Linked DNA regions of Homo sapiens. The protein of the gene in region 1 interacts with the protein of each later gene in a pairwise test. Each region holds a gene or a part of one and is shown in the gene's direction. Other genes may lie near its edges.

Region 1 (3,500 bases):
CATCTAAGTCTCTTCACCACTATCTCTTGGGCTACTAGGGCTGTGACTGATACTGTAGCCACTAGCCTCATGCAGCTATTTAAATTAAAATTAAATAAAATTAAAGATTCTGTTTCTCAGGTCCATGAGCCACACTTGTGCTCAGTGGCCACGTGGTCTGTGGTCAGTAGCCACATGTGGGCACTGGGTACCGTATTGGATGGCACAGATTTCCATCCAATAGAACATTTCCATCCCTGGAAAGTTCTATTGGCCAGTGCTGCCTCCCCACCCCGACTTTGGCCTCCTGTCCCATCTCCTGAGTGTTGGTCATTTTCTTCCCACCCTCCCAACCCCTCAGCCTCTTCTTCCTCCAAATTCCTTGTCTTCTGCGTCTTCTCCCTGCCTTCCAAGACTTGGTTTCTCTTCTCTCCTCTTTCTTTTTATTTTTTTTTTGAAATGGAGTCTTGCTCTGTCACCCAGGAGTATAATGGCGTAATCTCGGCTCACTGCAACATCTGCCTCCCGGGTTCAAGCAGTTCTCCTGGCCCAGCCCCCTGAATAGCTCGGATTACAGGCGCGCACCACCACACTCTGCTAATTTTTGTATTTTTAGTAGAGATGGGATTTCACCATGTTGGCCAGGCTGGTCTCGAACTCCTGACCTCAAGTGATCTGCCCGCCTCAACCTCCTGAAGTGCTGGGATTACAGGTGTGAGCCACCACGCCAGGCTGGTTTCTCTTCTCTTTCTGACATTTTGTGAGAGATACCAAAATGTCATCATCAAGAGCCTGAGATACCGGGCTGAGACTGACCTGGGTTCAAGTCCCAGCTCTGCTGCATCTCAACTGTGTGACTTTGGGCAGGTCAGTTGACCCCTCTATACCTCAGTTGTCCTCATTTGTGCAATGAAAAGAGCAGTCATTCTACCTACCTCACGCACTGTGAGGCTTCAGTGAGATTGTGCACAAAATGCACAGGGTCTTGCTTGTTGTGGCCTCTCAGTAAACATTTGCTGGTGACATTAGCATCTTTCTACCTGGCTAACCCCTGGCTTCCTTTTTCCCTCAGTGTGAAGCCATTCTCACAGACACCGTTCACCTTGTCACTGACTCCCCCATCTACTGACCTCCCAGGTAAGAGCCTGCGCTCCACCCTCCCTTGTCTCCCCTCTCTCTCTTCGACCCCTACTGCCTTTCCTTCAACCTTCCATCAATTGAGGGATACATTGTTTTTTTTGTTTTATTTTGTTTTGTTTTGAGATGGAGTCTCCCTCTGTCGCCAGGCTGGAGTGCAGTGGCGTGATCTCGGCTCACTGCAACCTCCGCCTCCTGGGTTCAAGTGATTCTCCTGCCTCAGCCTCCCGAGTGGCTGGGATTACAGGTGCCCGCCACCATGCCGGGCTAATTTTTGTATTTTTAGTAGAGATCGGGTTTCACCATGTTGACCAGGATGGTCTCGATCTTTTGATATTGTGATCCGCCTGCCTCGGCTTTCCAAAGTGCTGGGATTACAGGTGTGAGCCACCGCACCCGGCCAATTAGGGGATACATTCTTACTGAAGCCCAGCTTTGAGGCAGGGTGTGTGTGTTGGGGGCGGGGGAGCCGGGAGGGGCTGGAGAGCTGAGTGGTGGAACTGGTGATGGTTAGGAGATTTTGGTCTTTGCAGCCACACACTGGGTTTGTGTTCTGCCACTTGCTAGCTTATGAGACATGGGGGAGGTATGTTAGTCAAGATTCTTTCAGCTGCAAGTGATAGAAATCCAAATCAAGCCAGCTGAAGCAACATTTTAAAAAAGAAGAGGCAGGTGCGGTGGCTCACAGCTGTAATCCCAGCACTTTGGGAGGCCTAGGCGGGTGGATCACCTGAGGTCAGGAGTTCGAGACCAACCTGGCCAACATGGCGAAACCACCCCCCCCAACCTCTACTAAAAAATACAAAAATTAGCCAGGCGTGGTAGCAGTAGCACTTGCCTGTAATCCCAGCTACTCGGGAGGCTGAGGCAGGAGAATCACTTGAACCTGGGAGGCAGAGGTTGCAGTGAGCCGAGGTGGCACCGTTGCACTCCAGACTGGGCGACAGAGCAAGACTCTGTCTCAAAATAAATAAATAAATAAAATAAAAAATAATAAGAAAAATGTATTGATTTATTGGTTCCAGTAACTGACAGTTCAGAATTATGGCCTCAGGCGTGGCTGGATCCAGCGGCTCAAGTGATGGCATCAGTCATTACTTTGATCTGCTTTCCACTGTGGTGGCTTCATTCCCAGGCAGACTCAGCTACTTGGCAGCAAAGATGGCTTCTGGAAGTCCATGCTGATATGGCCCTGAGAACTCACATCAGTGAAAGAGGGAGTCCCTTAGTTTCCATAGATTTATCAATTAGGAATACTTTTGGCTGCAAGTAACAGAAGACCCACATTAAAAGTGCCTTAAATAGTAAAAGCATTCATGTTATGAATCCATGCAACAAAAAGCCTGGAGGTGGGCTGTTCCCGTGTGGGCTTAGCAATATCAGGACTGGAATCTCTGTAGTTCCTCTCATGTCTGTCTTATTGTCCCAAGATGGCTGTTGCAACTCCAGGGATCATGTCTGTGTTGGTCCATTTGCATTGCTGTAAAGGAATGCCTGAAACTGGGTGATTTATAAAGAAAAGAGGTTTATTTGGTTCACAGTTCTGCAGGCTGTACAGGAAGCATGTTGCCAGCCTATGCTTCTGGTGAGGGCCTCAGGAAGCTTAGGACCATGGTGGAAGGGGAAGGGGAGCCACTATGTCACATGGTGAGAGGGAGCAAGAGAGCGAAGCCAGGCTCCTTTAAACAGCCAGCTCACATCAACTCAAAGAGTGAGAATTCACTTGTTACTATGGGGAAGGCACCAAGACATTCATGAGGGATCCACCCCCATGACCCAAGCACTTCCCATCAGGCCCCACCTCCAACCTTGGGGATCACACTTTTTTTTTTTTTTTTGAGACAGAGTCTCGCTCTGTCCCCCAGTCTGGAGTGCAGTGGCGCAATCTCGGCTCACTGCAACCCCCGCCTCCTGGGTTCAAGCCATTCTCCTGCCTCAGCCTCCTAAGTAGCTGGGATTACAGGCACGTGCCACCATGCCCAGCTAATATTTTGTATTTTTAGTAGAGACAGGGTTTCACCATGTTAGCCAGGACGGTCTCAATCTCCTGACCTTGTGATCCACCTGCGTTGGCCTCCCAAAGTGCTGGGATTACAGGTGTGAGCCACCGTGCCCAGCTGGGGATCACATTTCAACATGAGATTTGGAGGGGACAAATATCCAAACCATATCAATCTCCCAAGCAGGACTTGGCCAGGGCCAAAAGCTTTCTCCTCCCAAAGTTCTGTCTTTTTCATTCAGGAAGAAACTCCTTCCCAGAAGCCCCCCAGCAGATTTCCCCTAACGTCTCATTGGCTAGGACTGTGTCACATGGCCACTTCTAACTGCAAGGGAGGCTGGGAAAGTGAGTATTTAGCTTTTTCAGCTTCTAAGTGGAGGCAGGC
Region 2 (3,500 bases), on another chromosome or scaffold:
CTACAATCACCAAATATCACCCTTCAGATAAAAGAACTTCTCATTTTATTCCAGTTGGGTTAATTTCTATATTTTCCTCTGCAGTGTATTTATTTTTAACAAATGGAGCCACAGGCTTTGCATTAATTGGCAGTCACTCTTTCTGCACAGATGTTACTTGTTTCTCTTTCCTCTTTTTCACAGAAATAAACATATCTGCGGAGGATCATTGATAAAGGAGAGTTGGGTTCTTACTGCACGACAGTGTTTCCCTTCTCGGTAAAGTGTTTTTAAAACTAGTATTATTTTGAGCCTTTAAAATGTGTATGTCTTCCACTTTGCTCTTAAGGTTATAATATGTATTCATTTTACAGAGATTCACAAATGGGGTGAACAAATTATTTCATTTTTAGAATTTGGCTTACAAAACTTACTTTGACTTCACAGATATTTACAAGACACTACTTCAGTTCACCTCTTTTCACAATTAGTGTTACCCTCAGTTGGGGAAAATTTTGCTAGAATTATGTAAATGTTTTATATCCCAACTTTCTACTTGTACCCTGTATTTCTAGATATAATTCTTTTTTTTTTCTAAATTGTCAATAGGCTTTTTTCAGTCCTCACTACTTCTTTCTCCTGTAGAGTCAGCCTCAGGATCATCCTGGGCATAATTTTCAATGAAAATTAGCCTAAGGAAAAGATAAAGAGGCAGCATTTGTAAACTTCCTTCCTGCTTCTCAGCAAGGTCACTTTGATTTTGTTTGTAGAAAACTTCAACCCCTGTTACCAAACCAAATATATACACAGCTGACATAAACAAAGCAAAATTTGCAGAAAAAATTATAATTCATGTAAAGTGCTTTACCTGAGCATTTTTCACAAGTGACTTCTAGCAAGCATAAGCAAGTTTCTAAAATAGTCATTTAGAATCTCAGCAATTTAAAGCCTCTTTCTGCTTATGTATGTTTGTAGTATTCAGAATCTGCCATAACAAATGTGTTGTTCTTTATTATACTATGAATCAAATTTTAAATTTAGGTTATGTGCCTTAATAGTCTAAAATAACAATAGATAGGAATAATACTACAGAATTTGGAATTATTATGTTTTACATTTAAATTTTTTTCCTTCAAAACAGAGACTTGAAAGATTATGAAGCTTGGCTTGGAATTCATGATGTCCACGGAAGAGGAGATGAGAAATGCAAACAGGTTCTCAATGTTTCCCAGCTGGTATATGGCCCTGAAGGATCAGATCTGGTTTTAATGAAGCTTGCCAGGTTAGTTACTTTAGAAGATTTTGTATTTTTCACCTGGACAAGAATTGTTGGAGCATTTTCTTCAGCTGTGTGGCAGTTCGTTCTCTCTCATACAGATGCATTATAAACATATGTTACATGCTGTATATATATGTATATATGCGTGCGTTTGGGTCTCTCTGTGAGTATAGAGAGAAAGGTATTTGCAAAACTGTAAAAAAATGAATAACTAACATTGGGCCAACAGTCTGATCAGTCTGTTTTAAAATGGAAACTCAGCAGTTATTTGATAACTTTCAAATGTAAAATAATTATTTTAAAAAATAGCATTGACCATTTATTCTTAAATATTGGCAAATACATGACTCATTTCTTTACTACCTATTCCAAATGTCATCATTACATTTGGACATTCCCACCTTTTTTTTTTTTTTTTTAAGAAACAGGACTTCATTCTCTGTAAATGCCATATTAAACATGAACACTACATTTAATATGTTAATTTTGTGTTGAATCCAGTTGAGAGTACTTACCATTGTATTTTGTGTTTTCAGGCCTGCTGTCCTGGATGATTTTGTTAGTACGATTGATTTACCTAATTATGGATGCACAATTCCTGAAAAGACCAGTTGCAGTGTTTATGGCTGGGGCTACACTGGATGTAAGCTAGTTTTCAAAAGATGAGGCCATATTTATTTTATTTTAAAAAGAACACATTTGTCTTTGTTTCTTACTTTTCTCACCTTATTGTATGTTTTTTGCATCAATCTAGTGATCAACTATGATGGCCTATTACGAGTGGCACATCTCTATATAATGGGAAATGAGAAATGCAGCCAGCATCATCGAGGGAAGGTGACTCTGAATGAGTCTGAAATATGTGCTGGGGCTGAAAAGATTGGATCAGGACCATGTGAGGTAAAAAGGAAGTTCTTTAATAAGGAGTATGTGATTCATAGCTTAGTGTTTCATGTTTATTTTTTTCTGTTTATTTTTCTCAAATCAAAAATATTGTATACCAACCTATTCTAGGAAAGAGGAATTGGGAAAATTAACTCTGTAATATTCTGCATTTCTTTCAACTAAGCAGTGAGATAATCAATGTTTTATTAGCAGCAAACTATGATGACATTTGTCACTCAAAAAATAATAAGTGTGTAGAGCCGGAACTCCAAGGGAGAGCTATTCAAATGAGAAGTATCCAAATCAGTTAGATCAATGGTTTGCATTTTTCTAATGTTTTTCTAAATTTATTTTATCTTCCCAAATTATCTCGAAGTGAACTCCACTAATTATATCATTCAGAGATGCCTGGCTTTAAACTTTTAAATCTCTTTTTGGGTAAGCTGTTCCCTCTTTTGCTCTCTCGCTCTGTGTATGTGTTTAAACAGATTCTATTTTAAAAAGCCTAAAGGTCAAAGTTTGTGACTTTACGAGCTTGGACATTTCATTTGTGAGGCAACTGTTATTTCGGCTTGGCAATGTTCCTATCCCTATTTTACATAGACAAGCTGTTAAACTGTTAGTTTAGTTAGATTTTGAATGTGAGAGACATGTTCTCCAAGCTTCAGGGCTGTGGGATTGTGGAATGCTGTGTGTGGCAAAAGATGAAATGAGTTCAATGATAGTGAAATGTCCTTTGATATGTAGGAAAATGCATGCTGTAAGTATGGAACATAAATATGTATTGAAATGCAAGTGTTATACACCTTGCTCTGAGATTTTATTTCTGAAAAGAAGAGAAAATGTTTACTGTTTACTGAGTTTTTAGAACTGCTTAAAAATGATATGGTTAGAAACAGATTATATGTTTATAACCAGTTTCAAATTTGTTGCCTTTCTAGTAAATCATGAACAATGAAACCATTGTTCATTATAACAAGGGAACATTTACTAGGAGAAATAAATGACTATACTTTAAAAAGAAAAAGCAATAAGCATCCGGGAAACACAGAAGTTTCTAACTAGACCCAACCTTACAGATCATCTAATTATTGTCATTACCAAAACCAATTTGACAACTGCTTTTGAAGAATAGCCTTTAATTTGGATTATCACCTATATATTTTTCACTTCCCTCTTCAGTTTGAATTATTCATATCTGTATACTATATATGTTGTTTTTAACTTTATTGATAAGACTTGACCTCAAGTAGATTCCGCCACTTCTCAAAAATGTATTTATCCTCCAGAATGTTTTTAAAAATATATATGTCACTGACATTTAAATCAAGGTAATTTAGCCACTGAAATAAATTTG
Region 3 (4,259 bases), on another chromosome or scaffold:
ATTATTTTCACCTGATCTGTGCTGTACCATGTACAGCATGATGTACTATTACTGCTACCCAGTTGGAAACATTCAGCCTCTCTCTGTGAGCTCTTTTTCCCTGGGGATGTCAACTACCCTGCCTAAAATATGTGTGACTGTGTGTGTGGACCCATTCCAGCAGGTACCACTCTCAGTGGTTTTAAGGTGGCAAGATGTAGTGGGGGAGGTGGAGGTGTCAATGCATAGGTCTCAGAACAGAGTCTATAATATCATTGTTCACATTGGAGCCACGCATTTGCTGCTTATGGAGTATTTGGCCATCCTTTACTTCCTGGCCCTACCCATTTCTCAGAGATTAAAAAAAATTTTTTAAGATAATCTTGCTGTGTTGCCCAGGCTGGCCTCAAATTTCTGGGTTCAAGCAGGCCTCCTGCCTTGGCCTCCCAAGTAGCTGGGACTATAGGCACATGCCACCATGCCTGGCCCATTTCTAAATTGCTTGTTTGTTTGTTATTACAAATGCCTAGCCCTCAGGGTATGAACATGGACTGGAGAAGAAGAAACCAGAGTTGCTGCTATGTCCACCAGCCTCTCTGCATGTCCTGGCCTCAGCCCCCCTGGGCTCTGGTACTGACCCATCTCTGGCCACCATGCTCCTCCATAAGCCTCTGCAGAGCTAATCTGACCCTGTTGATGTTCTCATGAGAGAGTGATCTGCATGCCCCCTGCACCCCTCCGTGATAATACAGCAGACCAAGAGCTCTCCCACCCTTCCCTGCCTGGATGCTGGGCACGTCCCCAGCTGGGCTGCCTATTTAACGCACCACACTCTCATTCTCCCAAGGTGGGGCTCCAGGACTAGGCTGGGGCAGCAGAAAGTCCCCCTCTCTACATTGTCCTTGGCTCAGGAGCCAACTTAGAAAAAGCATTTCCAAATTGGCTAAGCCAGCGGAGCAGAGATTTTCTGTGCTGAGAAATATCAGGACATCCAGAGGGGTGGAAGGAGGCTTCCAGGGCACACATGAGATGTGGCAGGGGTAGGCTGTCCGTTTTAAAGCTTAAAGCTTTAGACATGAACTCACAGGGATTTCAGTCAGGGTCATCTGCCATGTGGCCCAGCAGGGCCCATCCTGAGGAAATGACCGGTATAGTCAGGAGCTGGCTGAAGAGCTGCCCTCACTCCACACCTTCCAGCAGCCCAGGTGCCGCCATCACGGGGCTCCCACTGGCATCTCTGCAGCTGCACTTCCCCCAATGCTGAGGAGCAGAGCTGATCTAGCACCCTGTCCATTGCCAAGGCACAGCAAACCTCTCTTGTTCCCATAGGTTACACAACTGGGATAAATGACCCGGGATGAAGAAACCACCGGCATCCAGGAACTTGTCTTAGACCAGTTTGTAGGGGAAATGACCTGCAGGGACTTTCCCCAGGGACCACATCCAGCTTTTCTTCCCTCCCAAGAGACCAGCAAGGCTCACTATAAATAGCAGCCACCTCTCCCTGGCAGACAGGGACCCGCAGCTCAGCTACAGCACAGATCAGGTGAGGAGCACACCAAGGAGTGATTTTTAAAACTTACTCTGTTTTCTCTTTCCCAACAAGATTATCATTTCCTTTAAAAAAAATAGTTATCCTGGGGCATACAGCCATACCATTCTGAAGGTGTCTTATCTCCTCTGATCTAGAGAGGTAAGCAGGGTCGGGCCTGGTAGTACTTGGATGGGAGAACACCTGGGAATACCAGGTGCTAAAGGCTTTAAGAATAAAAAATAATGATCCTGCTTTGTGTTTATCCCATGTTGAGTTCTGTGCGGGGCAGAGGGAACACACGGTAAATGCGTTATGGGGAATTATAGGCTACTTGAGGGAGTGACAGTCTGGTGGTAACTCCTGCCTTCCTCCATCAGTGCCACATTGGCATCCTCTTATGCAGTCAGGCTTCAGGGCTGATGGGTTCAGAACCGAGGGCTTCTGGCTCTGAGTGAGGTCCTGCTGCAAGGTTTCCTAGATGAGCCACTGAGACTCTAATAAGATCCAGTGGAAATAACCAGGCTCTCGTCGGAATATAAGTCCCAAGGGAAGCTGTGCCAGTCTTGTGGGCGACTGCCTGACTTCTCCTTTCATTTCAGCACCATGAAGCTTCTCACGGGCCTGGTTTTCTGCTCCTTGGTCCTGAGTGTCAGCAGCCGAAGCTTCTTTTCGTTCCTTGGCGAGGCTTTTGATGGTAAGGCTTCAGAAGGTTTGCAGGATTTCTGAAGAGAAACATCGCCCTGGACCTGATAAACTGGGGAAAATGATGCTTTCGGAAGGCTGCTTTTGAACCACAGAGTTGCTAGTGTCTGCGTTGCTGAGGCCTGCCAGGAACTAGGGTTTGCTGGGTTGCCTGTCTCGAGTCTTTCAGAGCTGCTGGGAATATCCCCTTTCCCCGTAGTGCAGCTTCTCAGGATGTGTTAAGTGGATGGATCACATTTCAGAAGCCGCTGCAAGGTGTATCAAAAACACATCTCCTGAGCCGTAAGGGACGGGGCATCCAGTAACAACGCACACGGGGTATTTTTGGGCTTCCTTAAGATTTGAGCCGCTGCCTTAGGTTGTGCTGCCCAATGTGCCTGGGGAGCTGCTAAACAGATTAGAGAGTCGAGGATTGTTGTCAGTTACTCAGAGAAAGAACAATCATCCTTTCCAGGAGCACCTGAGCTGTTTGTTTTGAGTAGAAGATGCAAAATAAGGCCTGCAATTGGTATAAAATGTCCCTCAGCATAAATCGCATAGGAGTATGACTAAGGCTGTTGACTCTTCTGTCTTCTTTCTCCTTCCTCCTTCGATTTCCTAGTTGGATAATGTACAGGGCTCTTTAGCCTCGCTCTGTCAGGGGCTCCCTTCCTGGTTTGTTCTGTTTCCATTCTTCCTTCTCCAGCCTTCTTGACAAGAGCTGGGAACTAACGTGCCTCAAGCCCCCACAAGGACCACAGCATTTTCTCATCTAGTTTCAGAATGACTCTGTGAGGCAGGCATCCCTTCTGTGAAGGTGAGAAAGCTGAGACTTAGAGCAGCTGAGGCCAATGCCCAGGGACTTACTGCCAGTCAGCAGGTGGCAGGGCAGAGGTTTGAGCCCGGCTGTGCTTGAGGTCAGGGCTCTTGCCAGGTAGACGCATCACTGACCACCTCCCAGAGGTTGATGGTTATGAATCTCAGACACACCTTGGCATCACCTGAACTACCCATGCCTTCAACTCCCCAGCAGAGTCTGCAGAAACTGGCCTGGGGTGTGGCCTGGGCACTGGGACTTTCAGTTTCTCTCTGGGTGATTAGAAAGTGCAGCCAAGGCTCACGCCTGTAATTCCAGCACTTTGGGAGGCCAAGGTGGATGAATCACTTGAGGTCATGAGTTCCGGAGCAGCCTGGCCAACATGGTGAAACCCTGTGTCTACTAAAAATATGAAAATGTAGCCAGGCGTGGTGGCAGGCACCTGTAATCCCAGCTACTCAGGAGGCTGAAGCAGGAAAATCACTTGAACCCGGGAAGCGGAAGTTGTAGTGAGTTACATTGCTCCAGTGTGCTCCAGCCTGGGTGACAGAGTGAGACTCCGTCTAAAAAAATAAAAAAGAAAAAGAAAGTGCAACCACGGCGGAGAACCGCTGCTCTATTGCTTCCTCAAGCAACCCACAGTATCAGTACAGCCTACTGAGAAAGTGTTTAGGGACTTTTATGCTCCTAACAGTCACTGGAACTCAGGTCACAATGACATGTATTCCATTTGCAAGAATATATACTTTAGTAGTCAGGGCAGAAGTACTCTGTGTCTGCCACCTTTCTCAGCATCAGTATTCCATGTCACCACCTCATTCATATACACTCCTGGATCTTATCATAGGCAGCTTCATTCTATAGCAGTGGCTCTTCACCAGGGCACTTGAAGAAGCCAACTAGGATAAAGGAATGTGCTTCTCAACCCATGGTATCCAAGGCTGCTATGATCACAGGCTGAAAGCTTGAAGTCAGTGGAAGATTTGTCCTTCTTTCATTCCCCTCTAAGGTGTTGTTGGAGTCTTTATGTTCTCCTGATGTCCCTTCTGCCTTTCCTTTCCTTTCCAGGGGCTCGGGACATGTGGAGAGCCTACTCTGACATGAGAGAAGCCAATTACATCGGCTCAGACAAATACTTCCATGCTCGGGGGAACTATGATGCTGCCAAAAGGGGACCTGGGGGTGCCTGGGCTGCAGAAGTGATCAGGTAACTGGAGCTCCTGGGACGTTAGGGCTGGGTGAGCAGAG
Region 4 (3,500 bases), on another chromosome or scaffold:
GGGCTTTGAAAACTTGGACTGCATTATGCAAAAAGCACAGCTGTAATACCAGGGCCAGGAAAAAAGACCAAACTCCTGAAATATTTGTGCTGCTCGCCTTCACTGTGCTAATGATTCTAGCAGTTTAAAAACGGACTTCTTGTTTATCAGCAGCCACTGCCCAAATTAATAGTTTACAATGAAAAAAAAAAAAAAGCTTTCAGCATTGGAAGCAAAGTCCAGGGACTGACAGCTGAGTTACTGAGTAAGGAAAGCAGAAAAGAGGGGGAAAAGTAGTTTTGTGGCTACTTTGGTCTCCCAAAGCCATATTTATAAGAAACTGAAAGAAAGCCGAAGGCTGGGCTGGGTAGGGGTGGAGAGAATACAACCCTAACCCAGTGGTCTCAGAGTTGAAAGTCACTTAAAGCATGTTTTCTTCTTTTGCCCTTTTTCCCCCTTAAACTCCAAAGGATTATTCCTTCAGTAGGTTTCCGGTGGATCGAGGCGGATCGTGTTAGCATTACGAGCTGTGTTTTTAAAGTTAGCATTTGAGTCAGATGCGCTGAGAAGAGACCTTTAGTCTGTTAACTGAATAACGCATTTCCTGGATGGCCTGAATTTATTTGGTGGTTATGGTTGGGCCTGCCTGGAGCTAACACATGAGCCATTGTGTAGCATCTTTGCAAGTGGGCCGTGCCCTGTGCTTTGAGCCTTGGTTTTCCCATCTGTAAAATGGAGAGCAGTTCAGTTGGATGATCCATAGTCCCTGCCTGCTGATACTCCAGGATTCCACACTGACTGGGCTGGGAAGGTTTGGAAGGATCTGGGGTGTAGGAAGAGGCCACTTTTGTCTCAGACCAGGTTATACACTGGAACTCTTGACTGCTAAAGATGAACACAGAAAGAATGGGGAAGAGGGAGGTCAACTAACCTTTAGTGAGCGGCTGTTCTGTGCCAGGTGAGATGCTTTAGAGACGTGATCACATTTAATTATGCCCAGCAGCCCTAGGAAGAAAGGAGGCACTGTTCTAATTTTAAAGATGGGGGGACTGAGGCTTGGAAAGGCAAAGTGATTTGTCCAAGGTTGTGCATGTAGTAAGCAACAGAGCCTGGAATTTGAACCCAGGTCTGTCTGACAGCAGAGCCAGTACTTTCCTCTGAAAATACACCACTCTCCAGGACCAGCTTCTTAAACCCAGGCGGCTGGGAAGGAGAGGATGCGGCTCTAGAGAGCTGCGCGCCCCCAAGGAAGCCCAAAGGAAGGCAGCAGGAGGCTGCAGGGGGCCCAGACAGCCACATCCCAGAGCACCCCTTTCTCAGTCTCAGCCAACAGGCTGAGGTGCGACTTACAGGGGATACTCTGCCTCCGTAGGGCACTGCTCCTCTCCCCCTGCAGAACTAGGGAAAGGAGAATGTTCCCAGTGACTCAGGATCCTCAGGAATCTGGGGTCTGGAAAAAGACTCTCTGAGGCCATGGAGGGGGCCCCTAGGAGGGACCGCTTCTCAGAAGCAGTGGCAACTCCCGTCCTGACTGGTTATTGCAGGTAGTAGTCCCTGTCTGAGTCTTTCTTGCCATATGGGGAGATTCCTTGCCAAGGCCCCGGTCGTAGTCTCCCCTCTATGGCTTTCAAAGACATCTGTTGGACGAGAATTCCTCAAGATCCCCACCATGCCTGGTTATAGAATACGTGCTTCCCCAAGCATGTTGGCTCAGGGATCTATTAAACAATTATTTCTTGTTAAACACTTGGTGGGATGAAGTAGGGCTTGGGAGGGAGAACAGGCTGGGGATCAGAGTGAACTTGAGAGTTTGCTTGTGAGAAATGGGTCTTTTGTGTCAAATGATGAATGAGCTAGATGACCCCCCCTATGGAAGGTAAAGGTCCCACGGCTGGTTGCATCTGTGGCCTTGCACGTGCATTCATGAGAATGTGTACATTCTCAGGGAGTCATACTGATTCTGAAGATGGACTTGCAGGAGCCGTTCTGGTCCGAGGTGTTTTTGCCTTCCTACGTGCCGCTGTGTCTGAAGGGGAGTGAATGAAGTACAAGGGATGGCCCTGCCTGCCGTACAGCCCAGCCTGTTCCTATTTGTGTCTTTTTAGCAACCAGATTACTCTTTTAGATGTTACCTTTGTTTTTAAATAACAGGTTTGCTAGAAATCAGGCTTTAGCAAGAAACCAGGGAGTACTATAAACCTGACTTGAAAAATACAGATCCCATTTGCTGTTTTAAGCTCTCCGGAGGACTGGAGATTGGGTTTATTTTGGAACGCTGCTGGACTATATGAATTACTTCTCAGAGGGTTGGGTATTTAATACCTAGTAGAAGTTTGTGTAAGAGTTGATGATGTATTTTGCCAACTTTCCAACCCTGTAAATAAATTACACGTGCCGGCAGAGGTTGCCAGGATCCACTGTGTCAGTTGGAGCTTAATTTTTATCCTAAACCACCGAATACTTTTGTCCTAGCAAGCAGAGAAAGTTACGGAGTTTTTTGCTTGTCACTGGGCCCATCCCAAGACGACGGTTTAAAGAGCCTGAGAATAGGCCTCCGCGGAGTCACTGATTTTGACACCGTTTTCGGTGGTTAAGTAGCTTCAGCAGTCTCAAGTCCAACCCTCAAGGCAGAGAATGATAATATAATTTTAAGCATATCGTAAAAATGAAACTCAATCACTTCCACTCCCCAAACCTGTCTCACTCCCCATCTCTCTGGAGAAAACGGCTGTAATTGTGTGTTTAATCTCAAGACTGCCTTTGCATTTTATCTTATTTGAGTGCAAAGCCCAGGTAATATCGTGGCATTTCCAGCGCGAAACAAAATAGGGTTTCTAATTTGGAGACACTATTAAATATTTCATGCTTCAACCAAACTCAATTCTTTTTTCCTATAATAAGTTTAAATATTAATTCTCTGGAATGTCAGATGCCTAAAGCAAAGCATTTAGTGATCTGCAGTTTCAAGTATCTCGAAGAAGGTTTATGAAACAGGATATTTCACTGGGAGGGATGAGTAGTGTGCTTCAGAGATATGTGAATTCAAGGCATCGTCTTCTGATTTATTTTTTAAAGGGAAAAGGTCATAAAATAAGTTGCTTTATGTGCTGATGGATTAAGTGGCTTAGGCTGAAATAACAGCAGGAACTTTACTATTTTTCCCTGTTTTAACAATGCTTTTTGGGGGAGGGGGGTGGGTCTTTTTCCCGCCTGCTTGTCTCCTCCCTCCGTACCCCCCGTCAACCCCAGCCAGATGGCTTTAATTCTAACCAAATCCCACGCTGAGGCCAAATGATTGATCAAACAGTCATTTGTACTTACGGAGCGCTCTTTGTGAGAATATCTCTGTGCTAGGGCTTCTCGTTGAGGCAGGCTCTTCTTTGGGCCTTCAAACGGATGATTTCAAACAGATCGAGCGGCTTGGTGAGGAGGGGTCCGCGGGTGGATGCGGAGCAAAAATCCCAGACCTCAAGTCCGTAGAACTTCTCGCTTAAAACCTCTGTGTTACTTCCCATCCCTGA
Region 5 (3,500 bases), on another chromosome or scaffold:
TCCTGCTCTGCTCCCCTGCAGGGCTGGTGGGCCTCCTTCCCCCTTTGAAGGCCTAACGGCCTGGCTTGGAGAGAGGGGGCTCCCGGCATGGGTGATGGCAGAGGCTGGCACCCTTGTGGGCCAGGGCCTGATGGCTCATGGGAGTGCAGGGGACATTGATGTCAAGGGATAGGCCAGACGCCTCACCTTCTCTCCATTCTAGGAAAATCCAAGAGGAAGAAGGATCTACGGATATCCTGCATGTCCAAGCCACCCGCACCCAACCCCACGTGAGTCTGCCTCAGTTTCTCCCTGGCTCACCCTGGAGAGGCTTCCCGAACAGGGCTCAATGGAAGGAGTGAGAGGCAGGTGGGGCCAGCCCTGCTTTACCTCGTCCTGTCCTGGGCAGCCCCTGCTGTGCATACAGCCAGGTGACGGCTGCTGGGGGTTCATGCAGCACCATTTGCTCTGCTCTGCTCACTTCTCACCCTGTCTTGGAGGCTCGATGAGGCCGTGCCCAGCTCAGTGTAGATGCTCAGCAGCCAGTGAGAGGAGGTGGCCGGAGAAGGCGCCTCCGGGGCAGGAGGCACCTCGTCCCCACGCCAGGCCCCACACTGGCCCATCTACTGCTGCACTTGGGGAAGGGTGTGGTTCTCTCTGAAGCTCACGGAGTCTTCTTTCTCCACAGACCCCCCCGGAACCTGGACTCCCGGACCTTCATCACCATTGGAGACAGAGTAGGTGCCAGCCGCCACCCCTGCAGGGCCTCTCACTTCACCTGACGAGCGGGTAGAGCTGACCCTGCAGGGCCACTTTGGGGGGAGGTGACTGAGGGGTCAGAGAGGGTCAGGCTCTGGAGAAGAGCCTCGTCCTGCGCTGCTGGCTGTGTGGCCCTGGGCCACCCACTCTTTGACCCTCCTGGTGGGAATGAGGACCATCGGCTGCCTGACTGGAGCTTGGCGAGCCCAGAGCTGGTAGGAAGGTTTCTGAGCTGAGAGCAAGGCCCTGCACCTCATCCTAGCCCTAGGGGAGAGTATTGAACATGCAGGCTCCTAGGCCGCCCTGGACCCGCTGGATCACTCCCTCAGGCCAGCACCTGGGCAACCTGCATTTTATGCTTCCAGAAGCCTCGGAAGGGCACTAGCCATTCAGAATCCTGGCTCAGGGACCGTGCTATGCCCCGTTCCTCCCAACAGAAACCCTACTCCCAGGCCAGGTGCAGTGGCTCACACCTGTAATCCCCACACTTTGGGAGGCCGTGGCAGGAGGATCACTTGAGCCTCGGAGCTCGGGACCAGGCCTGGGCAACATGGCGAAACCCTGTCTGTACAAAAATACAGAAAATTAGTCAGCGTGGTGGTGCGTGCCTGTGGCCCCAGCTACTTGAGAGTATGAGGTAGGAGGATTGCTTGAACCCAGGAGGTGGATGTTGCAGTGAGCCATGATCGTACCACTGCCCTCCAGCTTGGGTGACGGAGTGAGACCCCGTTTCAAAAAAAAAAAAAAAAAAGAGCTGGGCACGGTGGCTCACGCCTGTAAGCCCAGCACTTTGGGAGGCTGAGGCGGGTAGATCACCTGAGGTCAGGAGTTCAAGACCAGCCTAGCTAACGTGGTGAAACCCTGTCTCTACTAAAATACAAAAATTAGCCCGGTGTGGTGGCAGGCGCCTATAATCCCAGCTATTCAGGAGGCTGAGACAGGAGAATCGCTTGAACCCAGGAGGTGGAGGTTGCAGTGAGCCAAGATTACCCCATTGCATTCCAGCCTGGGTGACGAGAGTGACACTCTGTCTAAAAAAAATAAACCCCATTCCCTAGGCCTGTCCTTGACGATACTCCCTCCAGGCTGTCGCACTCCCTGACACTCACCATCTGCTGTCCTGTTCATCTACTTGCTTACTCCTTTTTGTGTCCCTCCCAAGAGAGGGAAACATCTGTGAAGGCAATACTTTTGTTTTGTTGTCACTGTGTCCCCAGTGCCTAAAACACATTGTGGATGCTTGGTAAACAGTTTCTGAATGAGTGACTCATTCTAGCCAGCTGAGTGGGGTCGGGAAAAGAGGGACAGGGCACCTCTTTCTCAGAGCTGTACCTGCTGGCGGGGCATTTTGTCTCAGTCACACTCCATAGCAGCCTTGGGGTGTTGGCACTGTGCCTGTTTTATAGAGGGCATCGTGAGGCTCAGAGAGGTTAAGTGACTTGCTGAGGGTCACACAGCAGGGAGCGGTGGATATGAGGTTTGAGCCCAGATCTAATCAGCTGGTCCTCTTCATGCTGCCCAGGTATCTCCACTGGGCATGGGGTGAGGACTGGCTTCCAGCTTGCTGGCCACTGACTCTCTTTTCCATCCTTCAAGAACTTTGAGGTGGAGGCTGATGACTTGGTGACCATCTCAGAACTGGGCCGTGGAGCCTATGGGGTGGTAGAGAAGGTGCGGCACGCCCAGAGCGGCACCATCATGGCCGTGAAGGTGAGCAGGGCCTGGAGGCAGCTGGGAGGGCTCCCTGGAGGAGGCGGGCTGAGCTCTGCCATGGGGCCCTGCCTATCCCTCTCAGTGATCAGTACCGAGGCTAGGCTTTTTGGGGCACACTGGGCAGTGGCCCCCTGAGCTCCTGGCCCTCCTGTCATGAGTGTGGGTGTTGGCCTCTGCCACGGCAACCTCTGAATGGCAGTCCTTCCCTGCAGCGGATCCGGGCCACCGTGAACTCACAGGAGCAGAAGCGGCTGCTCATGGACCTGGACATCAACATGCGCACGGTCGACTGTTTCTACACTGTCACCTTCTACGGGGCACTATTCAGAGAGGTGCGTCCTTGCATGATGCAGCTGGGGATCTCCACCTCCCACCCATCAGTCGCCTGCAACCCACTGTCACTCAGTCCCTCCAGTACGCCAGGTGCTGGGGACACCTGGCATACTGGCAGGAGGCTCCCCCGTCTCTTGGCTGTTACTGTCCTGCTCAGTGCCTCAGTTTCCTTGTCAGTCAAATGAGGCCGGTGGTTGTGGGTGCCTCCTAAAGTTGACACGGAAGGTAAACGACATGGCCTGGGGCCTGGCATTCAGCTGCACTCAGTTCTGTCTGTGTGACCATTCGCATCCCCATGGCATACAGGGCGTGGGAATGGCATATGGGGCGTGGGGTGCCCAAGCAGGCAACGGCCATGGAGATATGAGATCTGGATTCTGGGTTCTAGGTTTGTGGACAGGATGGGGTGTGTGCTGAGAGAGTGACTGAGGCTGGAAGAGTGGAGCTGCCTTCCGCCAAGCCGGGTGGGTGTGGGTGAGCAGGGAGGCCGGGAGCCTAGGCGATGCTGGGCTCATACTGGTCACTTGCCCCTCAAAGAGCTGTGGCAGGGTCAGGGCATCTGAGTCCAGCCATCGGGCAAGGTCAGGGCTGCTTCACCTGTCCTCACTCGTCACTCATGAAGAGCTCAGCATCCTCTGTGCCAGCCCCTAGCCGATGGGGCCCCTGCAGCCTGCGGGTGCCCCCTGCGCATCTCCCAACCTTCCTGTCAGGAGGGT
Region 6 (3,370 bases), on another chromosome or scaffold:
AGAAGATATGAAAAATGTTACTTCTTAACCAAGTAAAGATCTAATAAAAACTACAAATTTTATATCAAGTTACATCATTTTTACATGCACATTTGTACCCCAAATACCATGCCATTAATTAATTTTTCACTGTTCATTTCTAGATGGAAGACTGTATTTGAAAACTACTGTCATGTACTGAATCTTTCCTGTTGAAGAAATCCATGTTATAGAAAAGAACTTTGCAGTCAGACATTCGTCATGGGAAAGTTCAGAAAAAAATAAAGTCCTTTTAAGGGAACTTCCTGAATTTTGTGTATTAATGTTCTTTAAAAGTTTAAGTATTCTACAAAAAAAAAAAAAGTTTTCTCCATTGATTTTCACCTGTGGTTCATACCAGAGACCTGAGAATGTTTGTAAATGTACAAGTATCAAAGTTCTTACAGTTAATTACTGCAACTTGCTGCTGGACAATTGTATACAGAGTTAAAGGCAGGTCTGAATAAGACCTAGCTTTGTTTTTTTCTAATGGAATGAACCATTTTCCTCTTCTGAAAATTCTGTATCTGAGCACATCAAGAGACTCTTGTAGCAGTGGTTACCCAGACTTACAGAATTATGTCCTCCAGAAACCAGCAAGAACACTTGGAATGAACGAATGAACTTGTAGGGGGCATAGAGGATTCTTGAAAAAAAAAAATGCAAGAGTGATTTTCTGTTACATTCAATTTCAAACTCTCTAATTGTGGGTTTTCTCCTGAAGAATTTTTTTTCACATACTTTCCAAAAGACCAACAAATGGATGTTGACAACAACCCAATGAAATAACATTTTGCATATCTGAAAAGAAGCATTGAATATAAGCCAAAAGCTTTCACTGAAGGTTTTTTTTTCTTAAAAATAAAAAAAAATATATAAGTGTAACATGTTTTCATTCCAAACTGGTAGTGGTATGTAGAATTAAAGATAATAATGTTGCTTCTTATTCAAACTGTTGGTCATATGTACAGTATATAAACATAAAACACACAAGGAAGGTATTATGTATGCAGTAGTATACTAGAGTTTAGGAAAATGAAAATTTTAGAAAATATGTTTTGTCACCCTGTTGGTCAGAAAGATGTCTTTCTGGTTTTAACGCATGCAGGCATGTAAATATTTGTCTGGAGTCACAGTATTAATGAATGAGATCTTAAGCATCTGGTGACATCAGAACTCTGTGTCAGCCACTTTTATTTGTATATTGAACCCTAGCTAGTGCCCCAAGCTGCACTATTGGGAATGGATTGTGGCTGAACAGCAAATCAAAACACCAGAAATATTTTTATATGTTAACGTCATATTATGTTAATGTTGCTGAAAACAAAACCTAACAAACCTTGATGTACCAGTCCAATACCATGTAGCGCTGAGTGATAAAGTTAAAATGTGCTGTGCTTCCCACCCTTGTCAGAGGGAAGGGTGGCTATGTGTTATTTTCACTGTCTTTTTGAAAGTTACAGTATGTGTTTTCACTTTCGTGCAGATAACTGGAAGTAAAGCGGCAAACAGTGCTTATTACATGCTAAAGTTACCTTCTCTTTGTTTTTTGCATATCTGGAATTACACCTTTAAAGACTGATATGAATCAGTACGGTCACTATACATTTTATGATTTTTCTGTCATCTTAAAATTGTATGATCGTAACATTATTTATTACCACAAAACAGCAAAATCTTCAATGTCTAAGAAAACTAGCTTAAAATGTTTAAATATAGTTCTGATTGGGTATTAATTACTTGATTAAGAAAAAATTAACATTATAGATACTCTGGCATTACGCTTCTATACCTTTTAGGTCTTCCTTGCAATACTGGAACATAATTCTTTTGTGTAGCTCACTATTAGCCAGCTAAGTTCATCTTTTTAATACCATAAAAAGGTTATATGTACAGTTCCTATTTTAGCTTGCTTACAAAGGGAGCATTATTTTTATTTAAAGTATTGCTAGTAAATGATTTGTAGAAACTTGGTTTTCTAAGCATAGTTCTTCCATAACCACCTTTTGTTGTTTGAGCACAAGGGATTCTTTTCCTAGTTCTATGTGTTTGTTTCCCTATATGCAGTCTTTAAAGGATTACAACACTTAAAATTGAATGGACTTGTGTCAAGCTTTTTGCATCATACATTTTTTGAAAGATTTTTAAAAAAGCCTACAACTTACATATGTAGTAGAATCAGCCATTGCTCTGCTCCTGGCATAGAGTCACCTGTTTGTTATGTGGATTAAATAGTTTTAAAATACATATTTGAAGACCTTTGAGAATGCTTTAGTGTTTGATTTGAAATAAAAGGAAATTTTAGCAAGGATTAAAGAAAAAAGCTATCAGCTGTATGTTAAGAGAGACTCTTACTAACATGTTGTAAATATTACAATTCATGAAATGTTATTGTAAGTCTGTAACTTAATTTTTTCCCTGTTTTAGTTATACAGGTTGGTTTGGAAATTTGTGTTTTGGCATAAACAAGTAAAATGTGCCCATTTTATGGTTTCCATGCTTTTGTAATCCTAAAAATATTAATGTCTAGTTGTTCTATATTATAACCACATTTGCGCTCTATGCAAGCCCTTGGAACAGAACATACTCATCTTCATGTAGGACCTATGAAAATTGTCTATTTTTATCTATATATTTAAAGTTTTCTAAAAATGATAAAAGGTTATTACGAATTTTGTTGTACAAAATCTGTACAAAAATCTGTTTTTACATCATAATGCAAGAATTGGAAATTTTTCTATGGTAGCCTAGTTATTTGAGCCTGGTTTCAATGTGAGAACCACGTTTACTGTTATTGTATTTAATTTTCTTTTCCTTTTCAACAATCTCCTAATAAAACTGTCTGAAATCTCCCTGTGACTTTATTTACAGTTCATCTTTATTAAATTTTGTGAAATGCATAGCATTGAAGGAATATTTACTTTCTAATGGGAGGCATCTAAAAACAACACAAGTCAGCTCTTTGCAATGCAAGGGGAACAATGCTCAATGATTTTATTTAACATGCAACTGCTTCTATCTCTAATATGAATTACTGTGGTGAAAAACATCATAAAAGCACACTCTGTAGTTATTGTTTAACAAGCAGATTTTCCATATTTTGTTTCTTGCCAGCTAAGCAAACTGCCCACATATACATGATTTATTTATGTACATTTCTCAGTTTATGAAGCTGTTATTTGTACCTTTTTTCTTTATATTCTTATATTCCCATGATTCTTATTTCACAAAGCTTTGTGCTGAATAATGCAAAGTAGACATGTTGATGGAACAAAATATATTATTCCCATATCTATGAGTGGAGATTTGTAACTCTAACTCAGTGTTTTGCTTTTGATCTCTATCTTTGGAA

The links.
Region 2: the proteins of TEAD2 (region 1) and HGF come close enough for resonance energy transfer, tested with the Homo sapiens proteins (one large-scale study listed by BioGRID).
Region 3: the proteins of TEAD2 (region 1) and SAA2 interact in a two-hybrid assay, tested with the Homo sapiens proteins (one large-scale study listed by BioGRID and IntAct).
Region 4: the proteins of TEAD2 (region 1) and GLIS1 come close enough for resonance energy transfer, tested with the Homo sapiens proteins (one large-scale study listed by BioGRID).
Region 5: the proteins of TEAD2 (region 1) and MAP2K3 come close enough for resonance energy transfer, tested with the Homo sapiens proteins (one large-scale study listed by BioGRID).
Region 6: the proteins of TEAD2 (region 1) and DACH1 come close enough for resonance energy transfer, tested with the Homo sapiens proteins (one large-scale study listed by BioGRID).

What each region holds. Positions count from the first base shown.
Region 1 is NC_000019.10:49,348,917-49,352,416, reverse strand, and holds part of TEAD2 (transcriptional enhancer factor TEF-4), read left to right. Parts: intron 1-1,051; coding exon 1,052-1,116; intron 1,117-3,357; coding exon of another isoform or gene 3,358-3,460; intron 3,461-3,500. UniProt on the Homo sapiens protein: Transcription factor which plays a key role in the Hippo signaling pathway, a pathway involved in organ size control and tumor suppression by restricting proliferation and promoting apoptosis.
Region 2 is NC_000007.14:81,704,048-81,707,547, reverse strand, and holds part of HGF (hepatocyte growth factor isoform 1 preproprotein), read left to right. Parts: intron 1-183; coding exon 184-258; intron 259-1,120; coding exon 1,121-1,261; intron 1,262-1,794; coding exon 1,795-1,901; intron 1,902-2,012; coding exon 2,013-2,158; intron 2,159-3,500. UniProt on the Homo sapiens protein: Potent mitogen for mature parenchymal hepatocyte cells, seems to be a hepatotrophic factor, and acts as a growth factor for a broad spectrum of tissues and cell types.
Region 3 is NC_000011.10:18,245,869-18,250,127, reverse strand, and holds the start of SAA2 (serum amyloid A-2 protein isoform a preproprotein), read left to right. Parts: upstream 1-1,459; 5' UTR 1,460-1,525; intron 1,526-1,611; exon of another isoform or gene 1,612-1,672; intron 1,673-2,112; 5' UTR 2,113-2,116; coding exon 2,117-2,207; intron 2,208-4,079; coding exon 4,080-4,218; intron 4,219-4,259. Other genes in the region: SAA2-SAA4 protein precursor, read left to right, coding at 2,117-2,207, 4,080-4,218.
Region 4 is NC_000001.11:53,729,165-53,732,664, reverse strand, and holds part of GLIS1 (zinc finger protein GLIS1), read left to right. Parts: intron 1-3,500. UniProt on the Homo sapiens protein: Acts both as a repressor and an activator of transcription. Binds to the consensus sequence 5'-GACCACCCAC-3'. By controlling the expression of genes involved in cell differentiation inhibits the lineage commitment of multipotent cells.
Region 5 is NC_000017.11:21,298,211-21,301,710, forward strand, and holds part of MAP2K3 (dual specificity mitogen-activated protein kinase kinase 3), read left to right. Parts: intron 1-202; coding exon 203-269; intron 270-667; coding exon 668-716; intron 717-2,334; coding exon 2,335-2,448; intron 2,449-2,663; coding exon 2,664-2,783; intron 2,784-3,500. UniProt on the Homo sapiens protein: Dual specificity kinase. Is activated by cytokines and environmental stress in vivo. Catalyzes the concomitant phosphorylation of a threonine and a tyrosine residue in the MAP kinase p38.
Region 6 is NC_000013.11:71,437,466-71,440,835, reverse strand, and holds the end of DACH1 (dachshund homolog 1), read left to right. Parts: intron 1-143; coding exon 144-181; 3' UTR 182-2,870; downstream 2,871-3,370. UniProt on the Homo sapiens protein: Transcription factor that is involved in regulation of organogenesis. Seems to be a regulator of SIX1, SIX6 and probably SIX5.